Linked DNA regions of Homo sapiens. The protein of the gene in region 2 purifies or fractionates together with the protein of the main gene of each other region. This does not show direct contact. Each region holds a gene or a part of one and is shown on either strand. Other genes may lie near its edges.

Evidence for each region.
Region 1: the proteins of IMPA2 (region 2) and SCPEP1 fractionate together in Homo sapiens (co-fractionation; one large-scale study listed by BioGRID). This does not show direct contact.
Region 3: the proteins of IMPA2 (region 2) and ARL3 fractionate together in Homo sapiens (co-fractionation; one large-scale study listed by BioGRID). This does not show direct contact.
Region 4: the proteins of IMPA2 (region 2) and PLS3 purify together in Homo sapiens (affinity purification with mass spectrometry; one large-scale study listed by BioGRID and IntAct). This does not show direct contact.

The regions. Positions count from the first base shown.
Region 1 is NC_000017.11:56,975,048-56,983,531, reverse strand, and holds the start of SCPEP1 (retinoid-inducible serine carboxypeptidase precursor), read right to left. Parts: upstream 5,402-8,484; 5' UTR 5,373-5,401; coding exon 5,297-5,372; intron 2,451-5,296; coding exon 2,302-2,450; intron 1-2,301. UniProt on the Homo sapiens protein: May be involved in vascular wall and kidney homeostasis.
Region 2 is NC_000018.10:12,026,758-12,033,602, reverse strand, and holds the end of IMPA2 (inositol monophosphatase 2), read right to left. Parts: intron 5,561-6,845; coding exon 5,452-5,560; intron 4,762-5,451; coding exon 4,610-4,761; intron 3,261-4,609; coding exon 3,145-3,260; 3' UTR 2,726-3,144; downstream 1-2,725. UniProt on the Homo sapiens protein: Phosphatase that can use myo-inositol monophosphates, myo-inositol 1,4-diphosphate, scyllo-inositol-1,4-diphosphate, glucose-1-phosphate, beta-glycerophosphate and 2'-AMP as substrates in vitro.
Region 3 is NC_000010.11:102,695,768-102,703,676, forward strand, and holds part of ARL3 (ADP-ribosylation factor-like protein 3), read right to left. Parts: intron 3,723-7,909; coding exon 3,606-3,722; intron 1-3,605. UniProt on the Homo sapiens protein: Small GTP-binding protein which cycles between an inactive GDP-bound and an active GTP-bound form, and the rate of cycling is regulated by guanine nucleotide exchange factors (GEF) and GTPase-activating proteins (GAP).
Region 4 is NC_000023.11:115,647,390-115,654,986, forward strand, and holds the end of PLS3 (plastin-3), read left to right. Parts: intron 1-160; coding exon 161-284; intron 285-503; coding exon 504-628; intron 629-2,039; coding exon 2,040-2,172; 3' UTR 2,173-3,472; downstream 3,473-7,597. UniProt on the Homo sapiens protein: Actin-bundling protein.

The DNA.
Region 1 (8,484 bases), on a different chromosome or scaffold from region 2:
TGGAATGCTACACTGCCACTTAGAATCATGAACTACGAAAAATGATGTGGCAACATTGAAAAATATTTATAATGCAATATGCAATAAATTAAAGCCAGGGATCTACCCTCCAATGAAAGCTGGGTTCCTTTTTCCTAATGGACTTATTAGGATGAGGTAGGATCAAAGCAAAAGGAGAAAAGCTGGAAATCCTAGGGGTTGGGTCTTTGTGGGAGAAATCTCAGTTCTCCTCTGCTTCTGGTATGCCAGGGAGACAGCAGAAGATGACCTCTCCCTCTCCTCTCTCCTCATTCCCCTCTCCTCAAAAGGCAATGAGATGCTGGATGGAGGAAGCCTCTGTTCTACGTGAATATATCCTATTGTAAAACCTCTTTTTTGTCTAGAACTTTGGGATAGGGTGCTAGCATGGCCCAGGGCTATCCAGAAACTCTGAGACACAGTCAGTGTGTCAGTGGACCAAGTGAAACGCTTCGAAGACTTGAAAGTGTCCCTAACATAGTTTGCTAACCCACTCAGAAGACATGACTTCGATTCTCAAAGATTCCCCCGAGAGAAGTCAGCACCATGTCCTCAGTAGGCTGCTAAAATAGATCTCCTTTTCATCTAAATTAGTTATTTCTTCTGTAAGCATAATCTTTCTTCTTCTCTCTTGGGTCTCTGGGTAAGTGAAGAGCAATTTATTCTCTTCAGTTGATAAACTTCAAAGGAGAAGCCTCAGCCTCAGCACTTGTGCTTTTGTCTGCTTTGTCTCCCCTTTGTAAGCTTTCATTTGGGGGTAAAAAAAAAAAAGAAAAGTTCTGCTGATGAACAAAAAGTTTGAAAACCACCAAAATCTCCCAGATTAGACAGCCAAGGCCCAGAGGAGGAAGTATCTTGCCATGGCTCTAAGTGGCAGGTAGGCACTGAAAACCCGAGGCCCCTGACGGCAGGCCTGAGCTTGTCCACGGCCTGGCTCTCCCTGCCAATTGTGCCGCACCTTTGTCTCCAGCCACCGGAGGTGAACAGGGCTCCCCAGGCTGACATACAAGGGTTCTTTTTCTGCATTATCATAACCGCACCTGGGGCTGAGCCTCAGCTCTAGCCCTCAGAGGTGGCACAAGTGATAATTCCAAAAGAGAAAGGCCCCTCCCTGAAAACTGCTCATTTTCGCTCTATCTCACCAGAAAGTCTGCATCGACCATCCTGGGAGGCAAAACCCAGGTGGTGGGAGGCTGCTTATAAATACCAGCATTGTTGGAAGACGTCCCAGTAGCATCCTATGGAGGTGAGCACCAGGGTCCCTATTTACTGATGAGGGGCCCAGGGTTCCAGCTGGGCCATGCCTACATTTTCCAGAGGCAAGACCATGTTCCTTAATTCCTCCCTGGTGGGTGGTCTTCCGGGTGGGGGTGGGCCATCTCTGGACAGATATTTCAGAAATGCCAGAAAAGAGCCTCTGCCTGTCCCTACAAATCTTTCAACCAGCTCCCTGCCTTCCATCCTACAATCAGAGCTCAAGGTTAAAATGCAAACACACTCAGGGAAAGGGGGAAGGCGCAACAGTCACACGAAGGTGCAGAAGGCTTGTAGCAGTCCCTTCAAAAGATCAGGTTTTCTGGGGGTAAGAAGTTAGGGTTCAGGAAAGGATTGTATGGAGAGGAAGGGAGGGTCAGGCTACCTCAGGTCTTTGCTTTGGAACCTTCCATAACACTTTCTTTTCTTTTTTCTTTTGAGATAGGGTCTTGCTCTGTCGCCCAGGCTGGAGCGCAGTGGCACGATCTCAGCTCACTGCTACCTCCGCCTCCCGGGTCCAAGCAATTCTCATGCCTCAACCATCTGAGTAGCTGGGATTATAGGTATGTGCTACCATGCCTGGATAATTTTTGTATTAAATATTTTTAGTAGAGACAGCGTTTCACTATGTCGGCCAGCCTGGTCTCGAACTCCTGGCCTCGTATGATCCACCCACCTCGGCCTCCCAAAGTTCTGGGATTACAGACATGAGCCACTGTGCCCGGCCTCAAAACACTTTCTATCACTATGTATTCAAATGTATCATCAGGAGTTTTCAGTGAGCCTTCTTGTGACCGTCTGGAAATATAAAGAGACTCTGGCAAAAGGCTAGAACCCCCTCGCCCTCTGATTTAGCCTCCTTGGCTATACCATTGCCTCAGCCTACCTCAGAAGCACGCCGAACCCCCAGGTCACACTGCTGGACCAAATCCGCCCTTCACTGCTGAGACATCAGCCCAAAAAGCAAGCAAAGAGCCACACAGAGGAGACTTGGCTTTGACCTCAGGCCAGGCTGGGAAGCTACTTTACCTGAAGCCACATGACCAGGGGCAGTTCTGAGAAGTTCTTGCAGGAGTTGGTGGCATAATAGAGCCACCAGAACATGTAGGCATCCTTGCGGACCGTCACATAATCCCATACTTCCTTGCCCTCCTCTGTGGGCCAGTCAATGACAGCTCCTGAAACAGAAGTTCAATTTCACTCTCCAGAAGAGTGCCTAATGTACAGGTAAATTCCAAGCCTGGTAGAGACAGCCATGCTAGGCTAGAGATGATTTGTTTTATAGTTTGGTAATTTAGCCACCCCAGTACATTGCAGGAATAAGGAAAAAACCTCGGCTATGAAAAAAGAAACCAAACTTAACAGCGGCATAGGAGGCCAGGGGCTTTCACTTTTTCCTCTACACTTTTCTGTAATGTTTGGATTTTTAACAATAAATATGAAACACTTTTTTTTTTTTTTTTTTTTTTTTGATACGAAGTCTCGCTCTTGTTGCCCAGGCTGGAATGCAATGGCGCAATCTCGGCTCACCGCAACCTCTGCCTTCCGGGTTCAAGCGATTCTCCTGCCTCAGCCTTCCAAGTAGCTAGGATTACAGGCATGCACCACCACGCCTGGCTAATTTTGTATTTTTAGTAGAGATGGGGTTTCTCCATGTTGGTCAGGCTGGTCTCGCACTCCTGACCTCAGGTGATCTGCCCGCCTAGGCCTACCAAAGTGCTGGGATTACAGGAAATACTTTTATAATTCTGTAAAAACAAGAGAGATTTATATTTTGAGTAAAAAAGTAAAAATCTCAGAATGCAATATACTGGTTTTTATATCGTATTTAATACATGAGTAAGACACCAGGCTTGGTGGCTCACTCCTGTAATCCCAACACTTTGGAAGGCCAAGACAGGCTGATAGCTTGTGCATAGGAGTTCAAAACCAGTCTAAGCAACATAGCAACACCCCATCTCTACAAAAAATGCAAAAATTAGCTGGGCATTGTGGCATATGCCTGTGGTCCCAGCTACTCAGGAGACAGAGGTAGGAGAATCGCTTGAGCCCAGTAGGTTGAGGCTGCAGTGAGCTGTGATCACACCAGTGCACTCCAGCCTAGGTGACAGAGGGAGATCCTATCTCAAAAAAACAAAAAACCAACCAACCAAACAAACAAAAAACATGAGTGAAGAGGCATCACAAATTAGTGGGGCTGAGAATATTCAATATACAGTAATGGAGCAACAATTACCTTTTTTGGAGAAAAAAAGAGAAATTTAGGTCCTCTCAACACTATAAACGAAATAAGTTCCATGAGGATCAAGCAATTAAATTTTAAACTTTAAACATTAAAAAAATACAAAAATATAGTTAAATATATTTCTAATGTCTGGATGAGGAAAGAATCTAAGCAAACCCCAGAGACTGTACAAAAGAAACAATGATGGAGGTGAGAACAGAAACTTGTTATATTTCTATACAACAAAATTTCTGTAAATCAAAAATAAAAAGGCAAACAGCAAGGAAAGAGCTACAACAAATATGAAAAAGGGCAATTTTCCTAACTCATGTAGATGATTTTTTTAAACTGAACGATATATATCTGTGTATGTGTGTTTAATATACGTATCCTATAATCCCCTAACTCCAATTTTCCTTACTTAACTTTTCTAGCATCCACAAAATATGTTTTAGAAAAGAGTAGGCTAAATACATTTTCTTTGTCACTTTTTGCTAACGTAACAATTTCCAAGTTATAGCATCTTTTTTTTTTTCCTCCAAAACCACTCTGGGAAAAAAAAAAGTAGAGGGGCTGTTGTTAAAAGATGATGGGGGGGATCCCCTCGGTGACTGGAGTTTTCTGCCTTCTATTTCCTCCCTTCTCAAATTTCAAGCCCCATTGGTCAGTAAAAGAACACTGGTCCCAACAGCTAAAGAGACAGGAGTAGAGAGGAAGACAATGAGACAACGTCTTGTAAATAAGAAAGAGCCAGGGTGGTGGCCTGTGTCTGCAGTCCGGGCTACTTGGGATGCTGAAGTAGGAAGATCACTTGAGTCAGGCAGTTCCAGACCAGCCTGGGCAACATAGTGAGACCCTGACTCAAAACAAAACAACAATGAAGATTAAGAAAACCAGAAAGTGTCCTGAGGAGCAAAACAGATGACTAAAACATTACAGACTTAGCTATAAGGTTCTATATACAAGTAACACACGATTATATTGTCCTTGACAATAACAGATAAGGCTGCGCTCCCTTGAGAATGACAGATAAGGCGCAGGTACCTTTTGACCTAACCCCAGGCACTTCTCCCTTGCCTGGCAGTGACTACTGGTAAAATTGGCAGAGCTACTTATTTTACAAAATCTCCCAGACACTCGCCTAAGGGCCAGATGATCCCCATTTTAGAAAAGGAAAACAAAACTGTTCAACAACTTGCCTAAGGTCACAAGGCAAGCTTGTGGCCAGTTCCAATTCTCAGTGCTTGCTTCAGACTAGGAGAGGTTTTGCTGAAAATCAATTTGCAAGTCATCCTATTAAACACAAATCTGTTTTTTGCCAAAAAAGATCGCTGTGGGGGAAGATGTTATCTTGTTTGTTTTGATCAAGAAAAGAAAGGGCCTTATCTCAATGAAATGTCCCATTCGTGGTAGGATGTAAGGGTACTTTTGACCGCAGATTTCAGCTTAAAATAAAACGACCTTATATCCTCATTTAGCAGCCAATCATGGCCTTTGAATCGGGGAAACCTCATTGACCAGCAGTTTCCCCAAATCATACATTTCTGCACACAGCTTCTATCTAGGCGTAGGAGAGAACGGAAGCACTCAGACCACCCAGAGCCAGAAAAGGACAAAAAAAGCACTTTGAATTTTTTAAGGAAAAAAAAAAAAAAGAGTGAGATTCAAAAGCAATATAATTACACAAGGTAAGAACCGGGGAAAAGAGACATGTTTTCAAAAGCACAAACCCAGTAACAAACTCTCACGCCTGGAGAAAAAAGAGGCATGGCAGCTGGTGCGCCTCTTGCTTGAACCTACCTGCGTTCAGGCCCAGCAGCAGCGGCAGCAGCAGCAACCACCGCGGGACGGGAGAGCGCCGCAGTGCCAGCTCCATGACAAGTACCGCACGGCAGCATCAGCAACAGGCTGGACCCGGCGCCCCATCACGTGACGGAGGCGGACGGGGCGGGTCGGGGGCGGGGCCTGCGGGTCGGGGGCGGGGCCTGAATGGGCATGGGGCGGGGCCTGGGCGGACCCGGCAGCTTGCTGAGACCCGCACGCCCTCTGCCCGGCAAGCCCACCAGGACCCCTGCAAATGCGCAGGGGCCGTTCTGTCCGCCTGGCCAGGTTCTCTGTCATTTTAGGGAGAGTATTTCGGAAAGGAGACATTTGATGCAGATGTTGGATTTAGGTTGTGTGACCGGATCGAAATACTAAAGGGAATAACCACCGCCCTTTCTACCCCTCCCATCTCTTCCTTCCCTCAGCAAAAGAACCGACGTTTTCCAACACTGCTACATCTGCGAAGTCAGATTAAGCCAGCTGGTCGTTGGCAAACAGCGGGGTTTCATTTTCAGATATGTATTTTTTAAATTATTTTTCTTTTAAAGTTATGTATGTTATAAACGTTTTGGAAATATGAACAAAAAAGTTATACATAACTATTGTTGGCATTTTTTCCCATAGTCTTTTACGTCATTTTAAAAAACACTAATAAAGATTTTTATTTTTTTTTTCTTTTTTGATAATTTGTCATTAGTATTACTCTGTGTTACGTTATCTTCACAGCAGTCATTTTAAAGAGAGAATCGAGGGTCTGGGGACGGGAAAGGAAGAAAAAGTGGATGACAGAGCTGTTTTCCTCTGTGTGTGTGTGTGTGTGTGTGTGTGTGTCTGTCTGTCTGTCTGAAGGTCATTTTTACGTTAGAGGGTACTGAATAACTCACCTCACAGCTAGGAGACAAGCTACAGCAGGGGCTGTAGGAGAGGCTACTTCTAAATACTGCTTCAAAAGTACATGTAACAAAAAGCAAAAAACAAATCAAAGTACATGTGGCCACTTCTCCTCTTTCCCTGCTCCTTTCTCCCTCCCCTCGCCCTTGACCCCCATAAATGGAAGTGCTTTTTACTCTGCAGCCATTGTCTGGACAGAGCCTTGACCCCGCCCTGCCTGTGAGGTGCCCCTGCACTGAAAGCTGCGGCAGAGAAAAATATGCCGCCGGGTTCTGTCATGCTTTAAGCATGGGATGGTCCCGAATGCATAAAATCCATAATGCCTGGGCAACATATTGAGACCCCCTCTCTACAAAAAATAACAAAAATTAACTGATGTGGTGACACGCGCCTGCTGTCCAAGCTACTCAGAAGGCTGAGGTGGGAGGATCACTTGAGCCCAGGAGCTCCAGGCTGCAGTGAGCAGGTGTTCCATGCCATATGGGAGATACATAAAAGTACATGCTTAGTTAAAAATAAATAACTATCTAGCAAACTTTTCCTGTCTGAAGCTTCCAAGTTGGTCTGTATCACTAGGGCTTGAAATACACTTACCCTTCCACTGCAGTCAGAATTTTAGGGTTTCAATTTTTTTGCCACAAAAATAACACTACAGCCCAGGGCGCAAGGTGGCTCACACCTGTAATCCCAGCACTTTGGGAGGCCGAGGTGGGCAGATTACTTGAGGTCGGGGGTTTGAGACCAGCCTGGCCAACATAGTGAAACCCCATTTCTACAAAAATACAAAAATTAGCTGGGTGTGGTGGCACTTGCTTGTGGTCTTAACTACTCGGGAGGCTAAGGCATGAGAATCGCTTGAACCCAGGAGGTGGAGGTTGCAGTGAGCCAAGATGGTGCCACTGCACTCCAGCCTGGGTGACAGAGTAAGACCCCATCTCACACACGCACAAAAAAATTGTGCATTTTATAATACGCTAATATGACTTCAAAAGGAAAAAATATAAATAAAATGTCACCTCTAGTTAATGATATTCATATTAAAGTGTTTAGGGGAAGGTGTACCAATGTATACAATTTTCTTTGAAATGTATCCAGATGCTGGCACAGTGACCTATGCCTGTAATCCAGCTCTTTGGGAGACCAAGGTGGGATGATTGATTGAGCCTAGAAGTTTGAGACCAGCCTGGACAATATAGTGAGACCATGTCTCTTAAAAAAAAAAAAAGTATCCAGAATATAAGATGGATTGATGGATAGGATGGAAAGAAGGTTGGATACATGGATAAATACATGATATCAAGTATTACAGTAACATTTTCTTTTTTCATTACAGTTTATAATCACAGGAACAAAATAAACAAAAACCACATGTAGAAACCAGATTAAAGCTTGTTATCCTTACAGGCAGTGGCGAAATTCCAATCTTCAGGGTTGGAGTGGTCTTTGTTTAAGAAAAATACCTCCTTGGTTCATTGAAGTTAGGAGTTGGGAGCTGATGGCATAGTAGCTGCAGCCAAGGCAACAAAAGATAATTGCCAAACTGTGCGGCCCAGGAGAAATTTTGTTTTGCTCCTAGGAGAGGAAAGAAGAGAGAAAGATGAAAAGAAGTGAAGGCTACATATAGAGAAAGATTAGCCAAAGAGAGTTGAGGCTGGAAGAAGAGCCAGTAGAAATTTCTCCGATGAGGAGTGGCTATGTAATCCCCCAATGGGTTCTTTTTGCCTGCTGCCCAGATAGAGCCAGCCAATTTATGAAGGCAGGGGAATTGCAATGGGGAAACAGTTTAATTCATGCAGAGCTGGCTGAAAGGAAGACTGGAGTTTTATAATTACTCAAATCAGTCTCTGAGGAGTAGTTTCAAAGACAGTTTAGGGGTAGGAGCAGAGGTGGCTAGGCAATGGATGCTTGCTGCTGATTGGTTGGGTTGGAGATGAAATCACAGGGAGTTGAAGCTGTCTTCTTGCGCGGATTTGCTTCCAGGTGGGGCCGCAGGAGCAGTTGGTAGGTCCAGGTGGAGCCAGGTGTCAGACATGCAAAAAAACCTGAAAAGATATCTCAAAAGGCTAATCTTAGGTTCTACAATAGTGATGGTGTCTGCAGGAGTAATTGGAGAAGTTGCATATTTTGTGACCTCAGGAATAATGGCTGGCAATCCTTAGCAGAATTCAGCCTCCTCTATTTTCTTAGCCTGGTGGTCATTTAGCGTAAAGTTTGGGGAAGGGCCATTATCATTTAACCTATAACCTAAATGCCTCCCAAAGTTAGCTTGGCCC
Region 2 (6,845 bases):
CATCCTCAATCTTGGCAAAATAAATCTCAACGCTGACTGAGACTGCCTCCGTCATTCTCTGGTTTCATGGTACTCTCCTAGGTGTCGTCCTGGGACATGCTCCCAACCCTGTGAGGGAGGCAGCCAGACCCCCAGTACAGACTTCACCTGGCACCAAAAGAGAGCTGACATGGCCCTCTCAAGGCCACACAGCTACCTGAACATCAATCCGCGTCCTGACTCCTGGTCTGAGTGGTGACAGTGATGCACTAGGACAAATGTTTTACTTTTTATTTGGGATTGGATCATAAAGGCAGCAAAACATTTGATGACTCATGTCCACAAGACACTCAGTGAAAACTGTTGAAATGAAGGGAAAAAAAAATGAGGGCAAGTATCCTGAAGCCTATGAGTGGAATTCAGAATGAATGTCATCACCAGTGATAGATGAATATCATTTTGTAAGAGGTCTAAATGACATAGCAAGCAGTTTTGCTAACTCTGAGGATCACAGAGGTGAGCAGCCCATTTCGTTTCTGGGAGGCTTGTCCAGGGATGAATGAGGCAAGCCCGCAGGTCCCCACCTTGGGTGCCTCTCTTTTCTCCAAGGTTCACTCTGCTTCTCCTGAAGCCGCAGGGATGACGCTCATGCGGAATACTTGCTAAAGGCAGCCTGAGACTCCGGACAGAGCAGAAGCAGAAGCAGAAGCAGGAGTCAGCTCAAGCTCCCTCAGGGCCTCCTGCTGTCCTGACCCAAGGGCTGGGAGGGCCTTTCCTGAGGTTGGGGAGGGGAGCAGTTCTTTCTTTTTGTTTTTTTGTTTGTTTTGTTTGTTGAGACAGGGTCTCGCTCTGTCACCCAGGCTGGAGTGCAGTGGAACAATAATGGCTCACTGCAGCCTCGACCTCCTGGGTTCCAGCCATCCTCCTGCCTGAGCCTCCCAAGCAGCTAGGACTACAGGCACGCACCACCACACCTGGCTAATTAAAAACTTTTATTATAGAGACAGGGTCTCATTCTGTGGCTTAGGCTGGAAATGCAGTGGTGCAATCATAGCTCACTGTAACCTCAAACTCCTGGGCTCAAAGGATCCTCCCACTTCAACCTTCCAAGTAGCTGTGCACCACATCCATCTAGTTTTGGGTTTTTTTTTGTAGAGATGGGGTCTTGCTATGCTGCCCAGGCTGATCTGGAATGCCTGGCCTCAATCCTGCCTCAGCCTCTCAACGTGCTGCGAGAGTTATTTTGTTGAAGAAAACTTCCAGATATTATTTGACTAATAAGCACTACATCTCAAAATCCATGAGAATGTAAGAAATTTCTTGCACATCTGTATAAATACTCAGATCTGTTTTGAGTAGATTCTGAGAAAATTAAGATGGGCTAACGAAGGCCTAAAGGAATAATCAGCAATTTGGAGAAACATGAGCATATTTTAAACTCATTTAAAAAATCCAAACTATTTATTGAAAAGCTCTACTAAACAAAATTAGTTCAGACAAAGCAATAAGATGACGAATCAAGCTCTCTCCAGAGATGAAAGAAAAGCCAGTCTCAAAGATGACTATAACTAACGCTGTTGCTGGAAAGACAAGGGCACCGAGCCAGCCCTGGGAGAGGCTCCACTTCTTCAAAGACAAAACGATTCCAAACGTGGCAGGACACAGTGCTCACCCTACAGTGAACCTCTGGGAATATGTTATTTTTTAAATTCAGTTAATCTTTCTTCTTTTTTTTTTTGAGACAGAGTCTCCTGTCGCCCAGGCTGGAGTGCAGGGGTGCGATCTCAGCTCACTGCAACCTCCACCTCCCGGGTTCAAATGATTCTCGGGCCTCAGCCTCACAAGTAGCTGGAATTACAGGCATGCGCCACCATACCCAGCTAATTTTTGTATTTTTAGTAGAGATAGGGTTTCATTATGTTGTCCAGGCTGGTCTCAAACTCCTGGCCTCAAGTGATCCACCTGCCTCGGCTCCCCAAAGTGCTGGAATTACAGGCATGAGCCACCGCACCCAGCCAAGACTTTCTCATTCTTAAACTTCAGGAAAGATGTCTGGCCAGCCAGTTAATAGCCTCATTAGAATTATTCTTACATACCATTCCGCCTCCTAAAGAGAAACAAGTAAGGCCCAGTTTCTCCTCTTTAAACTGATCACAGATTGGCCAGGTGTGGTGATTCAATCCCAGCACTTTGGAAGGCTGAGGTGAGAGGATCACTTGAGTCCAGGAGTTTGAGACCAGCCTGGGCAACACAGTGAGACCCCATCTCTACCAAAAAATTTTTAAAAATTAGCCTGGCATGCTAGTGCATGCCTGTGGTCCCAACTCAGAAGGCTAAGGCAGGAAGATCACTTGAGTCCTGAGGTCAAGGCTACAGTGAGCTGTGATCACACCACTGCACTCCAGGCTGGGAGACAGAGCAAGACCCCAACTCAAACAAAAACAAAAAAGCTGATCACAGAAACAACAGCTTTCAGAGATTAGTTTCCTTCTGTCTGTCCCATGTCTTGGCTTCTGAACACTCACATGATATTACTGGGGTCGCCTTCAGGGTATTCATCAGAGGCAGCAGCTGGCACACACTGGACTTTGGGTTTCATTCGCATGGACTTTGGGTTTCATTCGCATGGACTTTGGGTTTCATTCGCAAAGCTTCCTGAGAGCATAGATCCACAGCAGTGGATGAGAGCCACAGAGTTGTTTGGGAATCAGGCGACATGCTTATAGAGGAAACAGATACACACAGGGCCATTATTTTGATTTATTGCATTCTGAAGTACTCCGGGGGGAGGGCCTGAGAACGATCCGCTTTATCAGCAGTTCTAAAGCCTTATTACCTGAGATTTATATTCTGGGGGGAAAAATCAAGATTGGATTATCAATACGTATTTCACAGGAGATTTGAGTTTTGGCCCTGACAGAAGAACACGTACTAACCTGAAAAAGGCTACGTGAGATTAAAGAGAGAAACAGCTAAACACCAAATCCTGGTGAGAGAGACGTCGATTTAAAAGGCCAGCCACTCACTGTAGCGTGACAACTCCCTCTGGGGTAGCCAGGAGCAGAGCGTGAGCCACTGGCATGGAGCGTGGGCCACGAGGGCCACCTCCCCAGGAGCCCACAGCAGCCCAGGGAGGCCTTGGGAGCAGCTTTGCCTCAGCCGCAGTCACTTCTCATCATCCCGCCCATAGTTAATCGTCTGTAAGGCCTGAGCTATGAGCATCGCCATCTCCCGGGTGCTGGCCGCAACCACTCTGCAAGCCATGAGGTCGAGGGGTCCACCTGGGGACAGACAGAGAGAGCCAGGCATCCGGGTTACCAGAGAGGGCTGAACAATGTTGTGTAACAACTTATCCCACATGCACACAGCACAGGAAATGGCACATGGAACCGTGCCCAAGCCCCAACACTCGTATTAAACAGGTGGTCTAGGAGTGAATTCGGCAAAGAATAGAGGGATGGAGCCTCTCCCGCCCCACCCCAGTGTGAATGCAGTCAAGGGCTGCACAGAACAGAGTGCGGCTCTGAAGCTGCCACTGCCTTAAGAGATGGAGAACATAAAAGTCCTAAGAAATGCAAGCAATGGGCTAGACCCGAACAGGGGAGCTGCCCTTCTCAAGCTTGACTGTGCACAGGGGTCAGCCAGGGGCTTGTGAAACCAAGGCTCTGCCTCAACAGGTCTGGGTGGGGCTGAGGCTACCTGCCCACAAGCTCCTGGGGGTGCACCGCTGCTGCGGGACCCACACTCGAAGAAGCTCGGGCAAGATGATAAAGCCTTGCATCTTCCTGAGGGATATGAAACAGCTCTGGATGCATGGGCTGGAGACCTGCTTGCACATACGTGAGCCTTCAGGTGCTCTAGTGGTAAAATCAGAGTGATGGGGGCTTTAAAATATGGAATGGAGGCCGGGCATGGTGGCTCAGGCCTGTAATCCCAGCACTTTGGGAGGCCGAGGCGAGTGGATCACCTGAGGTCAGGAGTTCGAGACCAGCCTGACCAACATGGCAAAACCCCATCTCTACTAAAAATACAAAATTAGCTGGGCATGGTGGTGAGTGCCTTTAGTCCCAGCTATTCGGGAGGCCAAGGCAGGAGAATTGCTTGAACCTGGAAGGCGGAGGTTGCAGTGAGCCGAGATCATGCCATTGCACTCCAGCCTGGGTGACGAGTGAAACTCCGTGTCAAAAAAAAAAGAAAAAATGTGGAATGGGGTCGGGCATAGTGGCTCATGCCTGTAATTCCAGCACTTTGGGAGACCGAGGCAGGCGGATCACGAGGTCAGGAGATCAAGAGCATCCTGGCTGACACCATGAAACCCCGTCTCTAATAAAAATACAAAAAATTAGCCAGGCATGGTAGCACGCACCTGTAATCACAGCTACTCAGGAGGCTGAGGCAGGAGAATTGCTTGAACCCGTGAGTAGGATGGTTGCAGTGAGCCGAGATTGTACCACTGCACTCCATCCTGTGTGACACCAAGACCCCGTCTCAAAAAAAAAAAAAAAAAAAAAAAAACAGAAACTCTGGGGAAGGTGGGAAATTCAGTTGGTGGGGACTTCAGGAAGTGCCCCACCCACAGTGTCTCTCAGTCTAGTTTCTGCCGCTGCATTTCAGGGACAGGAGAGCTCACCCGAAGTGTCTATCACGATGCCGCCTGCTTCTCTGATGATGACTGTGGCAGCCGCCAGATCCCAGCAGTGCAGGCCAAACTGGTAATAGGCATCCGCGGCCCCTGAGGCCAGGTGGCAGAGTGCCAATGTGGAGCTTCCAATCACTCGGACCCTGGGGAGAGGGAAGGGAGGACAGATGCAGGCGGGAGTGGAGCCTTTTCTGTGGTGTGCAAGCCGACTTCAGCCAGGTACCCCGGCTGGGCATTTTCCCTAGTGAAAAATGAAGCACAGCACTTCTGCCAAAGCTCTGGAGGCTGAATATAGGGCCTGGAGCCACCAACCAACAGGCCTCCGCCAGACGCAAATGCCTTGTGCCATGACAGCTCCCAGCTGACCTAGCTACTGAGCACCTGAGATGCAGCAACCAGAGAATTGAATCCTCCTCTACTGAACGTGACATTAAGTGTCAGTGGTCTCACATGGCTAGGGCTCACAGCACAGCCCTACTGGGAAGGCAAGAGACAAAGAGGATTCACTGGGCTTTGATAAACCTGTCTGACGCCAGGCCCCCTCGGGAAGGACTGTAAGTATTTGCACCATTCGCTGGTTGAGCAGCATGAGGTCAGTTCCATGGATTCTGATCAGAAGCAACACAGGTGCCCACGCATCTCCAGAGGCCTGGCTATAGGAGTATCTACTGCAGGCGGGCCCCTCACAGGGCTTCCCTGAGTCTGATGTTCATGTGCCCCTCCCACTCTTTCCACGTCAGGCTTCCTCCTCAAATCCCAGGGGAGTTTTAGCAAGTCCGTGTTCCGTTCTTCCTCCTCGGGCTGCAGGGTGTTCCCCGAACTGAACCTCCTACCCATGCGCCTTGGCATGCAGCAGCCGCTCCATGTTACTCAGGAACAGCTTCAGGGTCGCAGGGTCACGTTTGGGGCCAATTTCTGTCAGAACCAAGGCCTTTGAGAGATCTGCAATAAAAAGAATTTCCTGTCACCAGAAAAATCAAGTCTTGGTTCTAACTAAGGAGTACAGGCTTCCAACGTGAGCCTTTCTTTCTCAGAGTAAGGATCATCTTTCGACTGGTTCATGCTGAATGCTTTTTTGATATCTATGTTGAAAACTAAGGATGGACCGGGCACAGTGGATCGTGCCTGTAATGCCAGCACTTTGGGAGGCTAGGGAACAAGGATCACCTGAGGCCATGAGTTCCAGACCAGCCTGGGCAAGATGGTGAGACTCCATCTCTGCAAAAAAAAAAAAAATTAAAAGTAGCTGGGCATGGTGGCACAGGCCTGTAGTTGCAGCTACTCAGGAGGCTGAGGTGGGAGGATTGGTTGAGCCCAGGGGTTCAAGGCTGCTGTCAGCCATGATTGCGCCACCACATTCCAGCCTGGAGGACAGAGCAAGTCCCTGTTTCTTTAAAAAAAAAAAAAAAAAAAAAAATCACCATCATTCAACCAAAAAGAAAAGCAAAATGACTCCAAACTGGGAACACTCAATGTTTGGAGGGAAAAAATGCTTCATTAATCGTCTAACTGCTGCAATCGCAACGATAGAAATACCATTTTCTTGGAGAAAGCAACTTTTAAATAATGCTGCTTTGGAAAGGGAAGCTGCAGGAGTGAGCCCTCTGGATGCAGGGGGGTGCCGACACCTGGAATTCATGGCCTGCCGTTTATGTAACAGCAGGCGAGGCTGCCAGGGCTGGCAAGCCTGGCTCAGGGCAGGACGTGACCGGGATTCTGCTCCTGTCCCTGACTCACTGCTGGGGATCAGAGCAGTTTGTCCTTGTTGTGCCACACACCCAAACACAGCCAAACTTCGGTCATGTCCCGTCAGGCCTCACTGCCCGGGCAGGACAGTGCCAAACCAGGTGTGCTCCATGACAAAATAAAGCCACTCCCAAAGTCGGGGGAAACAAATCCTATCACATTACTGCACTCAATGGACCCAGTTCTGTGTCACCACTTTCAAATTCTCCGCTCACCCAGGAAATCTCTCAGCCAGAATCCAGGTCCAAGTGTCCCTTTTCTTCCATGGAAACTCTCATTTTACACCTTAAAGCACTTTCTGCAAAACACCTGGCTCCACACCAAAGCAACCTGCCTGCCCTCAGGAGGTCCAGATCATTCACCGCCGGCCATGCCCAGCACTGAAGCTGAGCTATGAGGGCACTCCTGCCCTGGGACTGGCAGCAGGCCCTCCACAGATACCACCTGAGCCCTGCAGCTGCCACCCACAGCTGGGACAAAA
Region 3 (7,909 bases), on a different chromosome or scaffold from region 2:
CGGCCTCCCAAAGTGCTGGGATTACAGGAATGAGCCATCGCACCAGGCCTGATTTAAAATATTTTTAATTATTTTTATTTTTTTGTTTTTTTCTGAATTAAAAGAATTTTATCTTACCTCACCTTATCTTATCTCATCTTATCTTAGAGAGAGTCTCACTCTTGTTGCCCAGGCTGGAGTGACCACCATGCCCGGCCTTATTTTATTTTTTATTCAGACAGAGTCTCACTCTGTCACCCAGGCTGGAGTGCAGTGGTGCAATCTTGGCTCACTGCAAGCTCCGCCTCCCAGGTTCATGCCATTCTCCTGCCTCAGCCTCCCGAGCAGCTAGGACTACAGGCGCCCGCCACCATGCCCGGCTATTTTTTTGTATTTTTTAGTAGAGACGGGGTTTCACCGTGTTAGCCAGGATGGTCTCGATCTCCTGACCTCGTGATCCACCCACCTCGGCCTCCCAAAGTGCTGGGATTACAAGCGTTAGCCACAGAGCCTGGCCAACATTTTTTTTTTTTTTTTGAGACGGAGTCTTGGTCTGTCGCCAAAGCTGGAGAGCAGTGGCGCAATCTTGGCTCACTGCAACCTGCACCTCCCTGATTCAAGCAATTCTCTGCCTCAGCCTCCCAAATAGCTGGGATTACAGGCGCCCACCACCACGCCTGGCTAATTTTTTGTATTTTTAGTAGAGATGGGGTTTCACCATCTTGGCCAGGCTGGTCTTGAACTCCTGACCTTGTGATCCACCCGCCTCAGCCTCCCAAAGTGCTGGGATTACAGGCGTGAGCCACCGCACCCGGCCAACAGTTTTTTAAAATGCAAAAATTCCTGTCCTCACGGAGCTTACCTTACAGTGCAAGAGAAAGCTAATAAATAAAAATACGTCTGATGGCAATAGGTACAAAGAATCTGCTGATAGATCAGATGAGGGGAGTGAGGAGAGGGAGCCAAGGATGATTGCATTGTTTCCGGAGGAATGGGACTCCCATTTACTGAGAAGACTGTGGGAAGAGTAGGGTTGAGTAGAACAGGATGAAAACAGGAATTTGGTTTTAGACATGTTGAGGCTGAGGGACTTACCAGCCGCTGAAGTGGAGATGTCAAATAGGCAGCTGGCTTATATAGTCATGTGTTGCTTAATGACAGGGGCATGTTCTGAGAAATGCATTATTAGGCAATTCTGACATGGTGCCAACATCATACAGTGTACTTACACACACCTAGATGGTCTACTGCACACCTAGGCTGTATGGCATAGCCTATTGCCCCAGGCTACAAACCTGTACACGAAGTTACTGTATCGAATACTGCAGGCAACTGTAAAACAATGGTAAGTATTTATGGATCTAAACATATAAAAGGTAATGTGTTATGACAGCTATGTCACTAGGTAATATAAATTTTTCAGCTTTATTATAATTTTTTTTTTTTTTTGAGAAAGAGAGTCTCGCTGTGTTGCCCAGGCTGGAGTGCAGTGGCGCAATCTTGGCTCACCGCAATCTCCACCTCCTGGGTTCAAGCAATTCTCTTCCTCAGCCTCCTGAGTAGCTGGGATTACAGGCATCCACCACCATGCCCAGCTAATTTTCATATTTTTAGTAGAGATGCAGTTTCACCATCTTGGCCAGGCTAGTCTTGAATTCCTGACCTCGTGATCCACCTGCCTTGGCCTCCCAAAGTGCTGGGATTACAGGCGTGAGCCGCTGCGCCCGGCAGCTCTATTATAATCTTAAGGGACCACTATCATTTATGAGGTCAGTCACTGACCCAAGTGTCATTATGTGGCACATGACTGTATATGAAACTCAAGTTCAGGGGAGAATTCCAGGCTAGAGATGATAGTTTGAGATTCATAAGCATCTAAGTGGTCATTAAATCCTTCAAATTAGACGAGGTCACCTAAGCAGTGACTCAGAGAAGAAAAACACAAGGACTCCGGGGCTCTCTAACATTTGGAGGTTGGGAGATTAAAAAAAAATAGCAATGGAGATTTAGGAGGAGTAGCCAGTGAGGAGGAAAACCAAGATAGAATGGTGTCTTGGAAGCCAAGAAAAGACAATGTTTCAAAGAGAGCATGACCAATGTTAAATGGCCTGATAGGTCAAGTGAGATGAGTACTGAAAACTGAACCCTACTTTTAGCAATGTGGAATTATCAGTGACCCTGAAAAGAAGGCTCAAGAGTAACTAGGAGGAGATAAAGCAAAGACAGAGAGCATAACAAACTCTTTCAAGGAGTTTTGCTATAAAGGGAGGCTGAGGAATGGGACAGTATTGGAGGGGGATGTATGGTCAGGAGGAGTTTTCTGGGGCTTATTTTTTCTTCATTAAGCAAGAGAAGCTACAGGATATGTTTATGTTGATGGGAATGATCCAGAGGAGAGAGACACTTAGGAAACAACAGCAGAAGGTGAAGCTGTTTGAGATGCAAGATGATTTCTTTTTTTTTTTCTTGTCTTGAGACAGAGTATCACTCTGTCTTCCAGGCTGGAGTGTGGTGGCCTGATCTCAATCTGGGCTCACTGCAACCTCCGCCTCCTGGGCTCAAGCGATCCTCCCACCTCAGCCACCCCAAACTGCTGAGATTACAGGCATGAGCCACCACACCTGGTCTAGATGATTTCTATTCGTAATAAAGACATAGATATGGCTGCTATTATTGCAGTTTATTGCCTTTCATCATAATTGATGTAAACGCAAACTTTTGGTTAGAGGTTAGTAAAAGCGACATGCAATTTTTCTCCCATCTAAGTTCATGAGCCCCCCTAGTTTTAGGGTATGATTATGCAAGTATGTGGCTGAGGTAGAGTAGATGACAAGACCATTGAAGGAGGGCTGGTGAAGGAACTGAGAGGCTGAGGTTTTGTGGAAATCATGTAAGTGGACAGTGAAATCTCCAAGAATTCTGAAACTGTGATGGTCCTAAAGGAAGTGACAGCGAGCTGGGAGCTAAAATCTCGGCCTCCACTTGAATGAACGCTCCCTGAGTCAGGGTATTCCCAATGCACGAGGCAGCTTCTCCTACTACTGGACGATTGTAATTATAGGAAACTTCTTCCTTAATCTGAATTACATTCTACCACCTAACATTCCCCATCTTGCTCTTGGCTCAGCCCTCTAGAACTATTCAATCCCTCTGACTTAAGATAATTCTTGAAGCAGCCTAGACAGTTCCCAGTGTTCTCTTTTCCAGGAATAACATTCTCAGGTCTTTCAACCACTCCTTACACATCATGGTTTCCAGTACTTTCACTATTTTGCTTGCTCTCTTTGCAATACACTTGATTCGTTGTCTTCCTAGGGGTGACAGTCAGTGGCATGATCTTCTGACTTCCCTTCTGCTATTCAAATCACTATGGCAATTAATAACACTTTATTTTGCCAAGATGGGTGTGGGTACAACATTGTTACTGAGCGACAGCAAAACATCTTATACAAGTTATACAAAGATGTTTTTCCTTTATAATCTGTAGCCTTCTGCTATCCCTGCTAAATTCACAGTGATTAATGTTATGGTGGTGGAATTACTGACAAGAAAGAATGTTACAGTGTCCATGTTTCTAACACATGGCAGAAAATACTATGAATTAGTGCGTCAGAAGGAGTACTTACAAGAATATCGGTATTTTCAAAATAATTCTTCCAGTATGGTCTGATTTTCCTCTGTCCACCAATGTCCCATACATTCAGTTTAAAACCTTGTGATTGTACACTTTTGATGTTGAAACCCTGAAACAGGGACAAAAACATCAAGTTTTATTAAACTTTGGGATCATAATTCTGACAAAGTTACATTTAATAGCTATGTTTTTTATTAATTCTAAAGTACTCTGCCATATGTGATACTGGTAATGCTGAAAATGATTTGTTGTGACAGAGAATACAGAAACATATTTATACATGCTTGTTTCATCCAGGTTGTGGAGTCAGTGTTAATAATGTCAGGCTAACACAATGTTTTTCTACAATGAACATATATACATATATAATTACTGAGGATAACTCCAAATGAGAATAGCTCTAATTAACCAACACACATCACATGCCCATGAATCTTCAGGATGGTAAAATTTAACAGGACATTTCATGTAACTAACAACAAAAAAAAAGCTGAATCTGAAGACTCAACAGGAAAGAACACAAGCTAAATTTAAAGAGGCAAAAGCTACAAATCTAGAGGATTAGATTCTTCAAGAGCAGCTCAAAATAAATTTCCTACAGGGATTAATCAGGAAAAAGAGCAGAACTGAGGATGCTATGGGGGAGGCTGGGTTTGTAACTCGAATATATCAGCCCAGTAGGGAGGTGGAGCCCTCAGTTGCAGACACTGATGGAAACAAACAAGTGGTCAGTTAAAATTGTGCTTTCAGGCTGGGTGCGTAGCTCACGCCTGTAATCCCAGCACTCTGGGAGGCCGAGGCGGATGGATCAGGAGGTCAGGAGTTCGAGATCAGCCTGGTCAATATGGTGAAACACCGTCTCTACTAAAAATACAAAAATTAGCCAGGCGTGTTGGCGCATGCCTGGAGTCCCAGCTACTCAGGATGCCGAGGCAAGAGAATCACTTGAACCCTGGAGGCAGAGGTTGCAGTGAGCTGAGATCATGCCACTGCACTCTGGCCTGGGCGACAGAGTGAGATTCCATCTCAAAAAAAAAAAAAGTGCTTTCATAGGGAACTATGATGAACTTGAACTTGAAAAGGAAGTCTTCATTTTTTTTTTGAGACAGAGTCTCGCTCTGTTGCCCAGACTGGAGTGCAGTGGCATGGTCTTGGCTCACTGCAACCTCCGCCTCCCAAGTTCGAGTGATTCTCCTGCCTCAGCCTCCCGAGTAGCTGGAATTACAGGCGCCTGCCACCACACCCGGCTAATTTTTTGTATTTTTAGTAGAGACAGGGTTTCACCATATTGGTCAGGCTGGTCTCAAACTCCTGACCTCATGATCCGCCCACCTTGGCCTTCCAAAGCACTGGGATTACAGGCATGCGCCACTGTGCCCAGCCGGAAGTCTTTTTTTTTTTTTTTTTTTTGCAGAGTTGTGCTCTCGGCTCACCGCAACCTCCACCTCCCGGATTCAAGCGATTATCCTGCCTCAGCCTCCCGAGTAGCTGGGATTACAGGCATGCGCCACCATGCCTGGCTAATTTTGTATTTTTAGTAGAGATGGGGTTTCTCCATGTTGGTCAGGCTGGTCTTGAACTCCCGACCTCAGGTGATCCGCCCGCCTCAGCCTCCCAAAGTGCTGGGATTACAGGTGTGAGCCACTGCACCGGGCTGGAAGTCTTCATTTTTAAGACAGTTACTTGAGGTGAAACTTTGAGGAAGGTGAGCAAATCAGGGACAGGCAGAATTGCCAGGTGGGGGTCAGTGTGGAAAGAAACAAATTAACAAGCCCTTTGGGGTTCCCAGAGAATGTATTGCATGAACAAGAATTTTTTTTAAAGTCTTCTTGCAAAAATTACATAGGGAAACCAGGATTTGAAAAACCCAGTCAACAGCTTGCTACCACAGAAGAGACATTTCATCCAGAATAACTGGAGTTAGATAGCTTTGGGGATGCCTCCACAAACATTTGTTTCATGTGGTAGCCTGTCAACACTGCTGCCTGGCACAGAAGGAGAAGGCACAGTGCAATAGGACAGGAATATTGCCACCCAATTTCCACTGCGGATACACAGTCTCTGGAGGATAACTGGGGATCCTGCTGACTCTCACTTCTCTAACACGCCAATGACTGAATACATTAGAAGTTCGAGAATTCTAAAGGGAAATGGCTTAAGCTTATTGAAAAAAGTTTCATTGTGACTCACTGGCAAAACTACTTTAGTGTATTTAAAAATTCCACACTCAACAATGATATTAAATGTCAAACTCAGTAATACTGAATCCTTTCTGGAATAAAGCAGAAAATAAATAACAGTAAATCTTGGAATACAAGTAACAGTGAATCTTGGAATTTGACCATATGTATCAATGGGCTTAAACAGCTATAAGTCATGAGACCCAACAAATCTAGGAATTTATTCTGAGGAAATAATAATGATGAATGGGCAAAAACATTTAGAGATGTATATTACATAAGTATTTACATATATAATAACATAGAAAGATGTTCATGATCTATTATTAAGTGAACAAGAGGAGACAGGTTCAGTGGCTCACACCCATAATCCCAATTTTGGGAGACTGAGGCGGGAGGACTGCTTGAGCCCAGGAGTTCAAGGCCAGCCTGGGCAATGTAGTGAGACCCCATCTCTACCAAAAAAAAAAAAAAAAAAAAATTAGCTGGGTGTGGTGGCACATGCCTGCAGTCCTAACTACTCAGGAGCCTGAGGTGGGAAGATTGCTTGAACCCAGGAATTTGAGGCTGCAGTGAGCTATGGATGGTGCCACTGTACTCCAGCCTGGCCGACAGAGTGAAACCCCGTCTCTAAAAAAAATCTATATCTAGATATAGATGATACAAGCTAGTATATCCTCTATGAGCCATTTTTATTTTTTATTTTAAATATACCCATCATATATATGCATAGAAAAAAACTTGATACATTCCTAAATGTGAACAGTGGTATGTCTGACTGGGCATTATAGGTGACTTTTAGTTTCTCAATTGTATTTATTTATACTTCCTAAATTTACTACAATGAGCATTTATTACTTTTTCTAATATAAAACAAAAAACATAATAAAAGTTTGTTTTTAAAGAATATGAAACCTTGACACAATATAATATCAGAGTTACCTATAACACATCAAACAAAGCCTGAAGGTTAGAATGAGAACTTTGGGTTCCTAACTTTGAGTTTATTTCTGTGTTTGCAGTGTGGAAGTCTTCACGTTAGTGTTCTTGAGAGACACAGTTTATTGCTAATACTAAAAAAACAAAAACAAAAACAAAAAAACCCCACAAGCGCATGCACACAAAAACTAGTGCTTCTTTTTCTGGCAGAAATCTTGACACACTAATATGTGTTTTCAGCCCTTCTAGGCTAGATTACTGTAATTTGCTTGGGCTATACATTAAATTTGTTCAGAAGCTGTAAAAATTGTTCATTTGGTAGCAGTTGAAATGACTTTTCCATAAAGAGTTGTGAATCAGTAAGACTCATGGGCCGTGAAGTATGCATGCACACCAGCACAGCCATTCAAACCTGACACCAGGGTCTTATCACGGTACAGTGATGGAAAATAACTCTGGTTTTGCTAAAACCTCTAACCTTTAATGCTCAAACACTTTAAAGTGACTAAGACCAACAAGCTCTCCCTGTTGGCTTAGCCAAAGGTCAGGCATTCTTAGGATTTCCTACAGGGAATGAGTTCTAAGAAACCCACTACAGTTTTTCCAATCAGGTCTTGTCTTTTTTTTTTTTTTTTTTTTTTGAGACGGAGTCTCACTCTGTCGCCAGGCTGGAGTGCAATGGCACAATCTCAGCTCACTGTAATCTCCGCCTCCCAAGTTCAAGCCATTCTCCTGCCTCAGTCTCCTGAGTAGCTGGGATAACAGGTGCACACCACCACATCCAGCTAATTTTTGTATTTTTAGTAGAGACAGGATTTCACCATGTTGTCCAGGATGGTCTCCATGTCCTGACCTCATGATCCACCCACCTCGGCCTCCCAAAGTGCTGGGATTACAGGCATGAGCCATGGTGCCCAGGACTTGTCTTTTTTTTTTTTTTTTTTTTTTTTTTTTTTTTTTTTGTGATGGAGTCTCGCTCTGTCGCCCAGGCTGGAGTGCAGTGGCATGATCTCGGCTCACTGCAAGCTCCACCTCCTGGGTTCACGCCATTCTCCTGCCTCAGCCTCCCAAGTAGCTGGGACTACAGGTGCCCACTGCCACGCCCAGCCAATTTTTTGTATTTTTAGTAGAGACGGGGTTTCACCATGTTAGCCAGGATGGTCTCGATCTCCTGACC
Region 4 (7,597 bases), on a different chromosome or scaffold from region 2:
CGCCACTGCACTCCAGCCTGGGCGACAGAGCGAGACTCCGTCTCAAAAAAAAGAAGAAAAATTTAAGAAATATAAAAAGTGGAAGATAAAGCATCTTTCTGATGTTTGCATTTTTCCTCATAAAGTAGATGGTGACGTTTTCTTCTGCTGCCTCTCTTAGATATACCCTCAATGTCCTGGAAGATCTTGGAGATGGTCAGAAAGCCAATGACGACATCATTGTGAACTGGGTGAACAGAACGTTGAGTGAAGCTGGAAAATCAACTTCCATTCAGAGTTTTAAGGTCAGAATCCATATTTGACTATTAAATATTATGTTTGCTGGATAACATCTATCATTTGGGAAGGCAACTTTTGGCTTCTTTGTGAGTGAGAATTAGTGTTGGGCTAATGGCACAATTCTTTACGAATTCACTGGGCTTTGTTTTTGGCACTTGATATAAGTAAGCACATGTTAATTTGTATGTATCAAAATTCTCAGATTTGTTCTCCTTTCACACTAGGACAAGACGATCAGCTCCAGTTTGGCAGTTGTGGATTTAATTGATGCCATCCAGCCAGGCTGTATAAACTATGACCTTGTGAAGAGTGGCAATCTAACAGAAGATGACAAGCACAATAATGCCAAGTAAGGGAGACTGCTAATAGTATGAAAAGAACGCAGCTTTGTAGCTGGACAGATCTGAATTCTAATTCAGGTTCTGCCATTTAAGAGTGGTGTCACCTTGGGAGAAACCTCTTGGAGCCTCAGATTCCTCATCAATAAACTGGGGGCAATAATACTTACCTTAGATTTTATAAAGATTAAATTTTTAAAAATTATAAGAGCCTAGCCTTGTGCTTGGCCTACTAGGTGCTTAGTCGGTTGTTGCTTCAGTGGATTACAGAAATAATGTAGCATGTATTTTAATGCAAATCAGGTAAAACTTTACAAGGAAAATAAGAGCTTAGGGTGTTCATCTGTCTGTCTCATTCTTTTTTTAAAAAACGCATTATCCACTTATGTCTCTTTTACTATACATAGATCATTCTTACTACATTTATTGAATTTATCTTCATCAGTTCCCATATTAACAGAATGCTTGCTAGCCCTCCACAGAAGACTATGCCTTGAAAGTTTCTTGCATTTCAACAATATTCAGAAGGTCTTTTCCACCAGCCTATTTTCTTCTTCACCAAAGGCCTAGAGTGTGACCTGGCTTCATGGGTGACCCATGAAAACCTTACTAGTTAGACATTGAAAATCCATCCACAGTCCTGCATTACCGAACAGCTAAGAAGCATTCCTGCAAAACTTTGGAGTTAGGCACATTATTTCTTTTTTCCTTGAAAAATATTTCTAGCAGATATGACAAAGGTCTAATATCCACAATATATCAAGAACTCTTGAAATCTCTTTTTCTAGAAACTCGATGATTTAATTATCTTTAAAGATTCTGGTTCCAACACACCTAGAAATACTTCACGGATTAGTTGAGATGTGTTCCTGAAAATTTCCCTACCTGGACATCTCAGTTCTTCTGTCCCTTCGTCTACCTTTTCTAGTTTTTGGTCCAGCCACTCTGTCCACGTACCACGTAGACTGTCTCCCCTCTCATGAATACTTGGAAGTATTCATTGCATCTGCCTAACAACTTGGGTTTTGCATCTAGCATGATTTTCCACCTCATATCTCTAAGATGACTTGAGTGTGTGTTATTATGTGTGCAATGAGAATATTAACATGGATTGTATAGACAGCCTAGGTAATTATATATATAAAGTTGGTGCTTCAAGCTTAATTCTCACCTCACATTGGAGAAAAAGAGTGAATAAATATTATTAGCCCCAAATAATAGAGCTTAAAAACCTACTGTAACTTCAAAGTGAAATCAAAACCCAAATCAAAAGAAAACAAAAAGCAAAACTGTTCTAATTGGAACTATCAATATGGAATTTTTGCATCCCAGCATAATAATTATATATGAGGAAATAGATGTCTTACGTGGTGTCCTTAACTGACAAGAATTTCATCCTGATTTTGTTTCCCCCTAAAATAGGTATGCAGTGTCAATGGCTAGAAGAATCGGAGCCAGAGTGTATGCTCTCCCTGAAGACCTTGTGGAAGTAAAGCCCAAGATGGTCATGACTGTGTTTGCATGTTTGATGGGCAGGGGAATGAAGAGAGTGTAAAATAACCAATCTGAATAAAACAGCCATGCTCCCAGGTGCATGATTCGCAGGTCAGCTATTTCCAGGTGAAGTGCTTATGGCTTAAGGAACTCTTGGCCATTCAAAGGACTTTTCATTTTGATTAACAGGACTAGCTTATCATGAGAGCCCTCAGGGGAAAGGGTTTAAGAAAAACAACTCCTCTTTCCCATAGTCAGAGTTGAATTTGTCAGGCACGCCTGAAATGTGCTCATAGCCAAAACATTTTACTCTCTCCTCCTAGAATGCTGCCCTTGACATTTCCCATTGCTGTATGTTATTTCTTGCTCTGTTATCTTTTGCCCTCTTAGAATGTCCCTCTCTTGGGACTTGCTTAGATGATGGGATATGAATATTATTAGACAGTAATTTTGCTTTCCATCCAGTATGCTAGTTCTTATTCGAGAACTATGGTCAGAGCGTATTTGGATATGAGTATCCTTTGCTTATCTTTGTAGTACTGAAAATTTGCCGAAGTAACTGGCTGTGCAGAATGTAATAGAAGCTTTTCTTATTCTTTTATTCTTAAGATCAGTATCTTTTTACAGTATTCTTTCTACATGATCCTTTTTTGTACATTTAAGAATATTTTGATTATATTAAACAAGACTGCTGATTTTGCTACTTTTTTTAAGGGGTCTTCAAGTAAGTAAAACATACATCGTAGCTAGAAGAAAAATGTACCTTAAATTTGCATCTTCCCTCTCATACCCAAGCTGTAAACAATTGAAATATTTTGTCTTAAATCACTTGGTTCAATACATGCTTATTTGTTTTAAAACCTGTATCATCAAACTCTCTCTCTAAATTTAAAATGCTGTTGAATATGATACTTTTGAGGAGAGAGTGTGCTCAGAACTTAGACGGGATTTGGTAGGCCAAGTATGCTAAGTGTACAATATATTTTTTAATTTTACACCTGAAACAAAGAAATGTGGTCACTAAAAATAAAAGTATATATGTAGGAATTAATGTACTCTTGCTTTGTCAAGCTGTTTGCTATAGTTTCCAAGGTATTATGTTACTCTAACTCTGAAAAGTGATGTAATCTGGTAGCAATGTAGTAGTTCAAATAAAGGCATTTACATAATAATTAGTCTGTTCTTCATGCTTTTGTCTCTTAGGAAGTATGCCAATGTTTGTCAGGATTTTTTTCTTTTTGTTTTTCTGATGTATTCTGTAAAATGGTGTTTGTTAAATTTGAGTTTTGGGAGCTGAATTAGAGGTACTGAATTAAGGACAGTACAAATGAAGTAAAAAGGTTTTCTCCAATTTACCAAAATTTCTTTATCCAGTTCCTGCTTTTTTCTTTCTTTTCCACCTCCCTCAGTCTTTTCAATGTTCTATGATATACATATCCTGAAACAGTGGGGATCTGAACAGTCACAGAGGAGAAATGGTTCATAGTAGATCTTCTCAATCTCATCCATATATGACATTTTTGGCTGGATAACTCTGTTGGGGTGGGGAGAAGGGGCTACCCTGTGCATTGTAGGAGGTTTAGCAGTATTACCGGCCTCTACCCACTAGATGTCAGCACATGCCCGGTGGTGTTGACCAAAATTGTCTCCAGACATAACCAAATGTCTCCTGGGTGGCAAAATCATCCCTTGTGGACAATCAGTGCCCATTTAAGCCTTTGTGTGAATGAGTAATATAAGGTGTAGTCTACTGAGGATTTGGTTACATAGAGATACTATATAATACTTTGCATTTATAATCTGAGAGATGGAAAGGCCTTTTTAAATATCACCTGAATTCCAAAGACATAAAATTAAAAAAGGATATATTTGACAACTCTACTTTTGCAAATATATATGTATAATAAAAAAGATCAAAATATAGATAACTAAAAAAGTGAGTTCAGTCTCAGATTATAGATTCTTTTAATATAAAAATAGGATTTATGAGTGAAAAAAAGACAAATCTGCAAACATACTAGGGTAACTGATGAAGTAAGGACAATTACATCTTAAGACCTGTCTTATGCCTTGAATCTGCCATACTCATTCACGTTCATCTTCGTCGAAGTACAAAGGTTCTTCTCTGTAAGCCCTAACGCCTTGAAGTGCCTCTTTAACAAGATAGGAAAGATATATTACATGTGGCCCTTTCTTCAAAAAAGGAGCTGATTTCTTGGGTGGTTCACTATACAGGGCCCACAGCCTGTAGGAGTGTACCATGGGATAGTTAAGTGTTCATATAAAGCAGTGGACCTGACACACAATTTTTTTCCTCCAAAAACTAATTTCAACAAATAAGAATGTGGACCAAAATTAGCAACACATTCAGAATTCTGCTGGGCGTGGTAGCTCATAACTGTAATCCCAGCAATTTGGAAGGCTGAGGCAGGTGGACTGCCTGAGCTCAGGAGCTCAAGATCAGCCTGGGCAACACGGTGAATCCCCATCTCTACCAACATGGTGAATCCCCCATCTTTTCCCCACACACCTGTAACTTCAGCACTTTGGGAGGCTGAAGTAGGAGGATTTCTTGAGGCCAGGAGTTTGAGACCAGCCTGGACAACACGGGGAGACTCCGTCTGTATAATAAAGTTAGCTAAGCATGAGGCTGGGTGCGGTGGCTCAAGCTTGTAATCCCAACACTTTGGGAGACCAAGGTGGGTGGATCACCTGAGGTGAGGAGTTTGAGACCAGCCTGGGCAACATAGTGAAACCCCATCTCTACAAAAATACAAAAATTAGCCAGGCATGGTGGTGGACACCATAATGTGTCCCACCAGCTACTCGGGAGGCTTAGGCAGGAGAATCACTTGAACACTGCGGGCAGAAGTTGATGTGAGCCGAGATTGCGCCACTGCATTCCAGCCTGGGTGAAAGAGCTAAACTCCATCTCGAAAAAAAAAAAAATTAGCTGAGCATGGTGGTGCATACCTGTGGTCTCAGCTACTTGGGAAGCTTAGGCAGGAGAATCACTTAGTTCAGTTGATCAAGGCTGCAGTGAGTTGTGATAGAACCATTGCATCCTAAACTGGGCTGCAAGACTCCATCTCTTAAAGAAAATAAAGATGATATTCCCCCTCTATCCTAATATGCTGAGAGATTGATTTTTTAAATTTTTGTCATGAATGGGTGGGTAGATTTTATCAAATGCTTTTTCTGCATCAATTTATATCATCATAAAATTTTCTTCTTTACCCTATTGATACGGTGGATTACATTGATTAGTTTCCAAAGATTAAACAAACCTTGCATGCCTGAATAAATCCCACTTGGTCAGTGTATAATTCTTATTCATTGTTGAATTTTATTTGCTAATATTTTATTGAGGATTTTTGCATCTAAGCTCAGAATGACGTTAATTTTTATTTAAATGTTTGGTGCAAGTCTCCAGTAAAAGTGTCCAAACCTGGAGATATTTCTTTAATGGTTATGGGGCTATTCAGATTATCTATTTAATCTTGATTGCGTTTTGGGTGGCTTTTGAATTTTGAGGAATTTGTTCACTTCTTCCATGTTGCTGAATTTGTGACCATAAAGTTTTCGTAGTATTTCCTTAATTATCTTTTTAATAGCTGCAGGATATGTAATGATATCTTCAGTTTGATTCCTCACAGTGGTGATTTATGTCTTCTCTCTTTTTAACCTTTGTCAGTCTTGCTAGAAGTTTATCAATTTCATTACTTTTTTTAAGAACTAGCTTTTTGTTTCTTTGTTTTTGTTTTTCTATTTTATTGATGTATGGTTTTATCTTTATGATTTCCATCTTTCTGCTTTCTTTGAATGTGTTCTGCTCTTTTTTTGTTGTTGTTGTTGTAGCATCTGTCCAAGACAACCGTAAAAAGCCACTAACCTCAATAAACTACCCATACAGAATTATCTATTTCTCCTTTCAGCCATATCAGTTTTATTTTGTTTTTTGTTGTTGTTGTTGAGACAGAGTCTCACTGTGTTGCCCAGGCTGGAGTGCAATGGCGTTGGCTTGCGGCAACCGCCTTTTCCGGGTTCAAGCAATTCTCCTGCCTCAGCCTTCTCAGTAGCTGTGATTACAGGTGCCCACCACCACTCCCTGCTAATTTTTTTTTTTTCTATTTTTAGTAGATACAGAATTTCACCATGTTGGCCAGGCTGGTCTCGAACTCCTGACCTCAGGTGATCCACCAGCCTTGGACTCCCAAAGTGCTGGGATTATAGGCATGAGCCACCATGTCCGGCCACACCCTGCTCAGTTTTTATGTATTTTGAGACTGTGTTGTTTGGTGCTTACACATTTAGGGTCACCATTTCTTTTTAGCTAATTGATCTTTTTCTGATTACATAATGTCACTCCTAGTCCCCAGTAATTTTCTTTGCTCTGTATTCTACTTTATGTGATATTAATATAGCCTAGCCATTCCTGCTTTTTAATGTTTACATAATTGTCATTTTCTATTCTTTTATTTTCGAGCTGCATTCATTATGCTTGAAGTGAGTTTCATGTAGATTGCATATCGTTGGGTCATGTGTTTTTATCTGTGTTTTAATTTTTTGCTTGTTTGTTTGTTTTGAGATGGAGTTTTACTCTTGTCGCCCAGACTGGAGTGCAGTGGCGCGAGCTCAGCTCACTGCAACCTCCGCCTCCTGGGTTCAAGTGATTCTCCCACCTCAGCCTCCTGAGTAGCTGAGATTACAGGCATGTGCCACCATGCCCGGCTAATTTTGTATTTTTAGTGGAGATGGGGTTTTACCATGTTGGCCAGGCTGGTCTCGAACTCCTGACCTCAGGTGGTCCACCCGCCTCAGCCTCCCAAAGTGCTGGGATTTCACAGGCATGAGCCACTGCACCCGGCCATTCCTTTTTTTTTTTTTTTTTTTTTTTTTTGAGATGGAGTCTCCTCTGTTGCCCAGTCTGGAGTGAAGTGGTGTAATCTCGGCTGACTGCAACCTCCGCCTCCCAGCTTCAAGCGATTTTCCTGCCTCAGCCCACCACGCTCAGGTAATTTTTGTATTTTTAGTAGAGATGGGGTTTCACCATGTTGGGCAGGCTGGTCTCGAACTCCTGACCCCAGCCTCCCAAAGTGCTGAGATTACAGGTGTGAGCCACCATGCCCGGCTGTTAGCCACTGCACCCGGCCTTAATTATTAATAGTTAGACATTATTTACTTTGAAAGTAATTATTGATATGTTAAGGCATAAGTGTGCCATTTTATTATTTAGTTTATGTTTGCTTGCTCCACTTTTTGTCCTTCTGTTCCCTGCCTCTTATCTTTTGATGAGTCACTTGAACGTTTTTTAAAATTCCATTTTGATATGTCAATAGTGTTCTTGAATATAGTTCTCTTTTTATTTTTATTTTTTGAGACAGTCTTGCTCTGTCATCCAGGCTGGAGAGCAGTGGCACTATCACGGCACCACTGCAGTCTCAACCTCCTCCCGAGCTCAAGTGATCCTCCCCGCTCAGCCTCCC